Linked DNA regions of Homo sapiens: region 1 is linked to region 2. The links come from fine-mapping of genetic effects on gene expression. A gene starts in region 2. The other region holds a variant in brackets. All regions are shown on one strand. Distances are from middle to middle. Region 1 has its middle 26 kb from the start of CKAP4. Region 2 holds the start of CKAP4 (cytoskeleton associated protein 4).

Evidence for each region. PIP is the estimated chance that this variant, and not a neighbour inherited with it, causes the effect. A credible set is the group of variants that fine-mapping cannot tell apart.
Region 1: its variant is the best candidate, but not a certain one, in a credible set for the expression of CKAP4 in lymphoblastoid cells (TwinsUK, PIP 0.82).

The regions. Positions count from the first base shown.
Region 1 is chr12:106,271,412-106,275,793 of GRCh38, forward strand. No RefSeq gene overlaps it. Among named protein-coding and RNA genes, the nearest start is that of CKAP4, 26 kb to the left of the region's middle. The variant G/GAAGGA (reference allele first, on the strand shown) is at 2,630.
Region 2 is chr12:106,245,463-106,249,844 of GRCh38, forward strand. CKAP4 (cytoskeleton associated protein 4) reads right to left here and starts at 2,558. Exons shown (of 2, transcript NM_006825.4): 1 at 1,907-2,558. The coding sequence starts at 2,389. LOC124903008 (a long non-coding RNA gene) reads left to right here and starts at 2,810. Exons shown (of 2, transcript XR_007063443.1): 1 at 2,810-3,297; 2 at 4,209-4,382. RefSeq lists silencers at 1,704-1,793, 2,454-2,763, 2,794-3,133.

The sequences.
Region 1 (4,382 bases), 26 kb after region 2:
TGATTAGTACCCAATCCCAAAATAAATATTTGGTGTCAATTTATAATACAAGGAGGCGTGGAAAATTGGTTTAAAATTATTACTGTAGAGAGAGGCCAGTTCCAAAGTAGTTGTCAAACAGAAGTGATATCAATAAATATTTGTCAAATCACTGAATGAATATCAATGATACAAAGTTAAGGAGGGTGGATCTTCTGAGAAGGAATGGTATTTTCCATCTTCAAGAAAGGAGATTCTTTGCTCTGTAAACAGATTTGAATGAGGAATTTTCTTTTATAAAAATGACTATGGCTGTGTTATTTTCATAACAGCTGACCTTGGTTCCCAGGCTAAGCTGCCCAGGGGCAAGGATTATCTCTGCAACTGAGCTGAGGTGGCTTGTAGTGGAGCCAAGTTTTGCCTTTGTCAAGCTATGAAGGCAAGGCCTTTGGGAAATTCAAAGCTTCTCTCCATTTCTCTAAGGAAGAAGAGTTCCTCTCCTAAAAAGTACAACCTCTTTGAAGGTTTTGGAAACCTCTGGGATTAAAGGACAACTTGGATCTCTTTCCATTTATCATCTTGACATGTATTTGCATGTTTTCTCCGGAAATGTCTTACATTAGTTCATCCCAAAGGCAACCATGAGGCAGGCCTGGCATAGGCCAAAGGCTCATTCAAGAGGAAGAAGGCAGAATTCATTTACGCATAAGGTGCTGAGCCAGGTATTTTATACTTGACTTCCCATTGACTCATCACAGCCTATTAAGTAGATATTATTAATTTTGTTCGAGGTGAAAAAAAGAAAGAAAAAAAAAGCAAGACTCTGAGAGAGGACCTGCAAACTGGAAAACATAGCCTGAAATCAGTAAAAATAGTATCAAAACCTCTATCTGCTTGAGTCCAAAGTCCATGCTCTTTCAGCTGTGCCCTCAGAGGCTTCCTGAACCCACAACTAGATTCAGCTTGGCATTGCCATCTCTCTCAATCTGCTCCCTACTTACCAGACCAGCTTTATCTGCCACAATTTCCCACATTAGTTGTGCTCCAGCCTGGGCGACAGAGCGAGACTCTGTCTAAAAATAAATAAATAAAATAAAAATAATAATAATAAAATAAATAACGGATGAGTTGGCCAGCAGTGGTGGCTCACACCTGTAATCCCAGCACTTTGGGAGTCTGAGGCAGGAGGATCACTTGAGCCCAGGAATTCGAGACCAGCCTGAACAACATGGCAAAACCCTATCTCTACAAGCAATACAAAAAAATTAGCTGGGCGTGGTGGGTCACACACCTGTAGTCACAGCTACTAGGGAGGCTGAGGTAGGAGAATCACCTGAGCCTGGGAAGTTGAAGCTGCAGTGAACAGTAATCATGCCACTGTACTCCAGCCTGAGTGTCAGAGTGAGACCCTGCTTCAAAAAGATAAATAAATGAGTTCCAGCTGTACATTAAACCTCCTAATGGTACAGCCCAGGCGTGAGTATGTCTTTAGAGCTCCCTAGTCAACAGGTTTGTCCATCCTTGGTTAAGAATCACTACAATATATGGACCTTTTATTCCAGACAAACTCTGCCTGCATTAATGCCTTGTATGTACAAATTTCCTTGCCATTTCCCTTACCAAATTACCTAAACTGAGCAACTCCAATTGCCCTTCAACAACCTTCATCTCACCTCTCCACTGATCAATGTTCTGCCTATTGTCATCTATTCAAATCAATGAAAAAAGGTACAGTTCAGTAAGTGTTCAATGTTTGGAAAAAATAACCAGTGTAGACGCTCAGCTCACCCCACACACTATGATAAATTATAAATAAATTAAATAATTGCATACAAAGTTTCATGACTAGGAAAATCAGAAATAATGAAAATGAATCATATCTTAAAATTTTGCTGAGGAAATGAAATTTCTAAGCATGGAAGAAAAAGCTTGTGTAAAAGGGGAAAGTAGGCCAGATTCAACCACATAAAAATGTAAAACAACTGTATGGAAGAATAAAAACAGCTTATAGGAAAAATATTCATTGTGAGTATGACAAGCAAGACTTAGTGTATTGTTTTCTAAACAGGCCATACCAATAGAGGGTAAGTACTCTAAAGATGGGAATGCTGTCTGCCTTGTTTACTATTATATTTTCTGCATCTATAAATGCTTGGCCTATAACAACAAATGAGTAAATATTTGTTGAATAAAGAGATTTAAAAATAACTTATCCATAAGGTAAATGAACAAAAGATCCAAACATTCACAAAAGAGGAAATACAATTACTTCACATTTAGGAACATATTGCTAACCTCACTTGTGACGTAAGAAGTGGAAATAGGCCGGACATGATGGCTCCCTCATGCCTGTAATCCCAGCACTTTGGGAGGCTGAGGTGGGCGCATCACTTGAGGCCAGGAATTCAAGACCAGCCTAGCCAACATGGTGAAATCCCATCTCTATGCAAAAAAATACAAAAATTAGCCAGGCATGTTGGCGCGCGCCTGTAGTACCAACTACTCAGGAGTCTAAGGCAGGAGAATCACTTGAACCTGGGATGCAGACATTGCAGTGAGCAGAGATCACGCTACTGCACGCTACCCTGGGCAACAGAGTGAGACTCCATCAAAAAAAGAAAGGAAGGAAGGAAGGAAGGAAGGAAGGAAG[G/GAAGGA]AAGGAAAGGAAAAGGAAAGAAAAGAAAAGGAAAGAGAGAAGTACTTAAAATATCAATAGATTATTATTTTTGCCTGTGAAATTAGCTGAGATCAAACACAATAAAGAAAACTCCTGTAATCCCAGCACTTTGGGAGGCCTGGGTGGGAGAACGGTTTGAGCCCAGGAGTTCAAGGCTATAGTGAGCTATGATCTCACCGCGGCACTCCAGCCTGGGTGACAGAGTGAGACTATCCCAAAAAAAAAAAGAAAAGAAAACTATAAAATATAATGCCAAAACACGGGTGAAACAGCTTCTTCATGCTATCCTTGATTCGGCCACTCTGGAGACTAGCAGAAATGGGAACGAGGTTCTGATGGCATTGAGATGGTCACTGTAATGGGATTAGTGGTTTTTTTTTCCTGGCCAGCAACCCTCCCTCCCCACCTCCTGACAGACCCCATGATCCTCAGGCAGTGCACCTACCCTCTGACCCCAGGGGAGAGTACACAATTAAAGACTGGCCAACCTGGCACTGGGATTTTTCAAACCAGCACCGAAGCCCTCCTTCTTCTCTGGTTGGGAATTGGTGAGGCTGTAACTCTGGCAGCTGCTGGCATGACGTCTCTTGAAACACAGAGAGAGTGGATCTGTAGTTGGGAAAAACTAGGTTGGTTTGCAGAGAGAACCCTATTGGCCTTCGTTTCCCTGGTTCTCTTCCTTCCTGAGGTCACGTTCTGTGTCCCTGCTCTTCCCACATGTTGCAGAAGTGAGTGAATCATTTTGCTCTTTTTTACATTTTTCATTTAGTGTGCTAGAGTGGGATTCTCTGGCTTGCAACAGCCTATTGTTAAATGTTCAGGAATTTTGTAAACTGGTTGTTAAATGGTTGGGAGCTTGAAATCAGCCCTGGCGGAAGTATTTACTCTCAGTCTACCGATGGGAGTTTCCAGCCCATGGAACTCTGCAAACACTAAGCACTACAAATCAGGCCTTTTTTTTTTTCTTTTTTTTTTTTCCTGGCAAGCCAGTTGTTAAACATTTACCAACTTTCCTTGAGGTAACTGGGCTGCAGTTCTGTCACCGACAATCCAGAGTATTTTGGACAATGCAGCCAGAGATCCTGAGAACACCTAAATCCCACCTGAGACTTTCATTATCACTAGCTTCCACAAATGAAGAAACTTCCCCCAGGCAGTCCCGAAGGGAGGTGACACCCAGAAAGAGTCTTATTGTTAGCTGGGCTTTAGGCCCCAAACCCCAAAGCAGAATTCTGGTGTGTGAAACTGTTCTGCACAGCCAAGGCTAGACACGTAAAGGTTCAACTTCTCCCCAACCTGAATCTTGGGTGGGCCATTTTGCAGAGAAAGATGACACGGTGCACATCTATCAGAGCTGTATGCGACGAAGCCACAGAGAAAGAGACCTCAGCAGAAAATGCATTTGCCTCTGAGCTTAGCAAGGATCTACCCGGGCAGGAGTCAGACCCGCTTGCTGCATGGGAGAAAAGAGAGCCAAGGAAAGGCCCAGGCTTCCTTTAAGGGTCCATGTTCTGGGTCAGTTTTCATCTGGGAATGCACTCAACAGATTGGCAGAGAAAGGAGACACTGTATCCGTCTCCAGACTTCTTTCTGCCCAGTGACCCCGCCCACGGTAAAGGTAACCCAACAAGCGCCTGGGCCTCTGGTCAATCATATTCCTCCTCTTCCTCTTCCTTCACTTGGAAACGAGGAAAGAAAGAAGGGGCTCAGAGAAGCAATTGGAGATAAAAGC
Region 2 (4,382 bases):
TTTTTAAGAATGGTTTGACATTCAGGATAGGCAAAGCAGCACTGCCTACTTAATTCCCTTAGAAAAGTCACCTCCCTTGGCCTGCAGCGTTTAGCAGGCTGACTCATTCCAGTTGCTCTGCCAGTCTTTTTTTTTTTTTTTTTTTTTTTTGAGACGGAGTCTCACTCTGTTGCCCCGGCTGGGGTGCACTGGCAGGATTTCCGCTCACTGCAACCTCCACCTCCCGGGTTCAAGCAATTCTCCTGCCTCAACCTCCTGAGTAGCTGGGACTACAGGCATGTGCCACCACACCCCGCTAATTTTTGTATTTTTAGTAGACACAGGGTTTCACCATGTTGGCCAGGCTGCTCTCAAACTTCTGACCTCAGGTGATCCGCCCGCCTCGGCCTCCTACAGTGCCGGGATTACAGGCGTGAGCCACCACGCCCGGCCGTGCTCTGCCAGTCTTAAGAGGAAATTCCTGGTCCTGCACACTCAACAAAAGCAGAGAGCAACTTGGCAGGACAGACAGCATGCTGGGAAAAGGAGGCAGTGGCTCCGGGATCAGAAGTGGCGGGATTTTTTGTTTCAGTCTTGCAACCAACTTTCATTGAGCAATGACATAGTGGAGGGCGAATAAGATCAAAGGGGCTGTACTTGGTATGGAAAAACCACAGAAGGGTGGAAGCTAAGCACCTTCGCCTTGAGAGTTGGGTCCATCCATACCTGAAATGGACCCCTGTGGACCCTTGACGAACAGGGCAGTGGCCTAGACATTCTCGTGTGTCTGTCACTCACCAGCTGGGGACTTTGTCAACTCATTCCTCTGTCTAAACCTCAATGTTCTGCTCTGGGAAATGAAATCAAAACTGTTAGTCCTCCCTCCCAGGGTAGTTATAAGAATTAGATAATATGTGAGTGAGTAAGCATTCTAAACACCATATAAATGTGGCTAGAAGTATTATTCACCAGTATGATCTAGTATTTTTGGCCCTCCTCTTCCCCTAAAGCGGAAGTAGGGCCGGGCGCAGTGGCTCACGCCTGTAATCCCAGCACTTTGGGAGGCCGAGGCAGGCGGATCACTTGAGGTCAGAAGTTCGAGACCAGCCTGGCCAATACGGTGAAACTTTGTCTCTACTACTAATAAAAAATTAGCTGGGTATGGTGGCACATGTCTGTAATCCCAGCTACTCAGGAGGCTGAGGCAGGAGAATCGCTGGAACCTGGGAGGCAGAGGTTGCAGTGAGCTGAGATCGTACCACTGCACTCCAGCCTGGGCGACAGAGCCAGACTCCCTCTCAAAAGAAAACCCAAAAAAGCTGAAGTAGGACTACGTCAAAGGCCCACCTGGGCAGGCTGGTCCAATACAGGACAAGGGACCTAAAGATAGATGGTATTTCATTTGGACCTGCAAATGAGTAAGAATGCCAGCTCCGGGTCTATTAAAAACCCCGCTCGGATGTCTCCCACAGGCAGAGCTGAGGTGGGGCCTTGCCTGAGGCTTCCAGGGATGCGCTGGCTTCCCTTCCAACCTCCTTTTCAGACAGCTCTGCCCATTCAGCGGTTCCTAATGCAGAAAGAATGGGCTCCCCGGAGCCTGCCGGCTTCCTTACAGGTCACCGCTAATGCCCTGTGACAGGCCCTTGGCCCACCCTGCCAGGCGGGCCTGGGCATCCTCGCGGCGGCCCATCCCTCGGGGCCGATTCCTCCGCAGCCATTAACAAAGGGGGTCTGGGGACTGCCTCGGAACTAGGGGGCCGCGTGGAGTGGGATGTCTAGGCCAGGGCCCGCCAAGGAGGAGCGGCCGGCTCCCGCCTCCGGGCCTGGGCAGGCAGCGCTAGGGGCCGGTCGGGAAGCACGAAGGAGCCCGGCCGTGGGTCCGGAGGCCGCAGTCGATGGGGACAGTTGCGGGGCCGGGGGTACCCACCTTCTGCTCGACGCCCTGCAAGCCCTGGCCCAGCTCCTCCCTCTGCCGGGAGAAGTCCTGGTGGCTGCGCCGGACCTGCTGGACCTCCTCCAGGACGTGGTGGACGCACCAGCCCGAGAAAGCGGCCGCCGCCACCAGGGCGAGGTAGAAGAGAAAGTTGAGCGCCCTGCCGAGCCTGCGCGAGCAGGACGCCGAGGACGAGGCGGCGGCGGCGGCAGCGGCGGCGGAGGCGGAGGAGGAGGAGGAGGACTTGCCGCCGCCGCCGCCGCCGCCGCGGTGGCCGCCCTTGCCGTGCGCCTGGTTCTGCGGGTGCTGCTGCGGGTGCTGCTGCGGGTGCGGCGCGGGCGGCGGCGGCGGCTGCTGCGGCGCCGGCGGCGGCTTCTTCGCCACGTCATCCGCGCCGCCCGACGGGTGGGCACCCTTCTCCGAGGGGCTCGCGGCGCCGTGGCCGCCCTTGGAGCCCCTTTGTTTGGCCGAGGGCATGGCGGGCGCGGCGGCGGCTCGGGCCGCGGGCTGGGAGGCGAGCGAGCGCGGCGCGCGGCCCGGGAAACTTGCAGGGGCTCCCCCGGGACTGGGCGAGCGGCACGCGGGCGCTGCTGGCGTCGGAGCGGCGAGAGGACGCGCGGCCGGGGAAGGAGGCCGGGCCGAGGAGGCGGGAGGAGGGGGCCTGCCTCCGCCGCCGCGGCGCCGACCCCGCCTCCCGGTAAGGGAGGCCGAGCGAGCCGAGCCGGGAGAGCTTGCCACGCACGCCGGCCCGGCGGCCCCTCCTCCCCGCCGCCACGACCCCGGAGAGGGAGGGCCGGGCGGGGTCTACGGGGGCCGGGAAGCCGGCGCGGGGGTGGCTGGGCGCGGGGCGGGGTCCCGGCGGGGTCTGCGGAGGCCGGGGTGGGCACCGAGGTGGCCGCGAGGGGAGGGGAGAAGAGCGGAGCGGAGGGGAGGGGACGCGGCCGAGGTGGGGCTGGCGGCCCGGCGGGTTCCACGCAGGCTGGGGGCGGAGGGCCAGATCGACCCCAGCCGGGGCGGCCGAGCAGGGTCCACGGGGGTCGGGGATGGGCGGCCAGGCGGGGTCGGAGGGACGAAAGCCGGGGTGAACCTGCGCCGCGGGCCAAGCGCGACCCCCTCCCTTCCCGACCTGTGCGGAGAGGAGAGAAATGAAGGGGGGCGCCCAAGGAGCCCTGGCCCCGGGAGTGGGAGTCAGCGGGTGGGAACAGATCGCCCTTCCTTTCCGCTGGGAATTGGGGGACTCCCCCTGCTTTCACTCTCCCAGCCCGCCATGGGGTTGGGCCTTGTCCTTTGCCTTGGGTTTGAAGGCGGAGACAAAAAAGGCTGTCCAAAATCCAGCCAGCTTGGGAGGCATGGTTGATGCGAGTTAGCAAAGATTCTCGACTGTGGTAAGTCTGTTCAAGGGGACGCATTCACCAAGTGTCCCCGTTAGCCAAGTTAGCCTGCTGTGGCCAGCTCTTTACTTTTTCCCCCCGAAGCCCCTTCAGCTCTGTTTTCTCTTTCGGGGTCATGAAGTTTGTCCACGGCCCCTACTCCTGACAGCCTCTGGGATGGGTGCTGCGGAGGCAGCAGCAGCCACACAGAAAGAGGCAGATCAGCGTTGTCACCCCTACTTTTGTAAAAGGAAATCTGGTATTGCCAGGCTGTGTGGTTAGCGACTCACATATGTTCTCGAAATCTCACAAAAGCCCTGTGAGGTAGAAATTATTTTACCCATTTTATAGGAAGGAAATTGAGACTGAGCGAGCCGGCTTCGGATTGGCTCAAGGTCACATATAGTCATCATTCGAACCTCACTCAGTCTGCTTCTTTCTGAAGTCTGTGCAGCTTAATCACTTCAGAATGGGAAGGAAACGGGGGCCCAGGGAAGTTAAGCAACTTGCCCACTCACTCAGTCTAATTGGTGCCGGGGCAGGGACAGAACTCACTCAATTCCACTGCTTTCCCCAGTTTCTGGTGAGTGATGTGTGCCTGGCACTGTGTGCACCTGGCACTGTGTGTAGTAGGAATGCTGTTTCTTCTGTCTGTAACCTCCTCCCAGTTCTGTAAACAAAGACAAAACCATGCCCTGCCCTTAAAGCCTATAGGGTTCAAATGCCACCTCTTTGATGATGCTTTCCCTATAACACCATTTGATACCTCTCATGGGACTTAGCAAGTAATTGCAACGAGAGGCATATATGTTAGTTCAATATAGCAAACCTTTGTTGAGGGCCCACTGTGTGCCAGGTATGTCTCCCCTCCCTGAGGACTGGAAGCAACCATAGTTTATATTTCTCCTTCTTTCTCGCTTTATAAGGTGTTGCTAAAAGCCTCCAGTGAATGAATGAACACTTGTGTGCCTGCCCTCAAGGAGCCTGCACTACACTTGGAGATATATACAGAAACCTGTTGAGGGCTAACTTAGGTAAATTGGGAACATAAATGTAAAGAGATTTGGAAAGCAAACCATTGGCCTGTACATGGGCAGGCT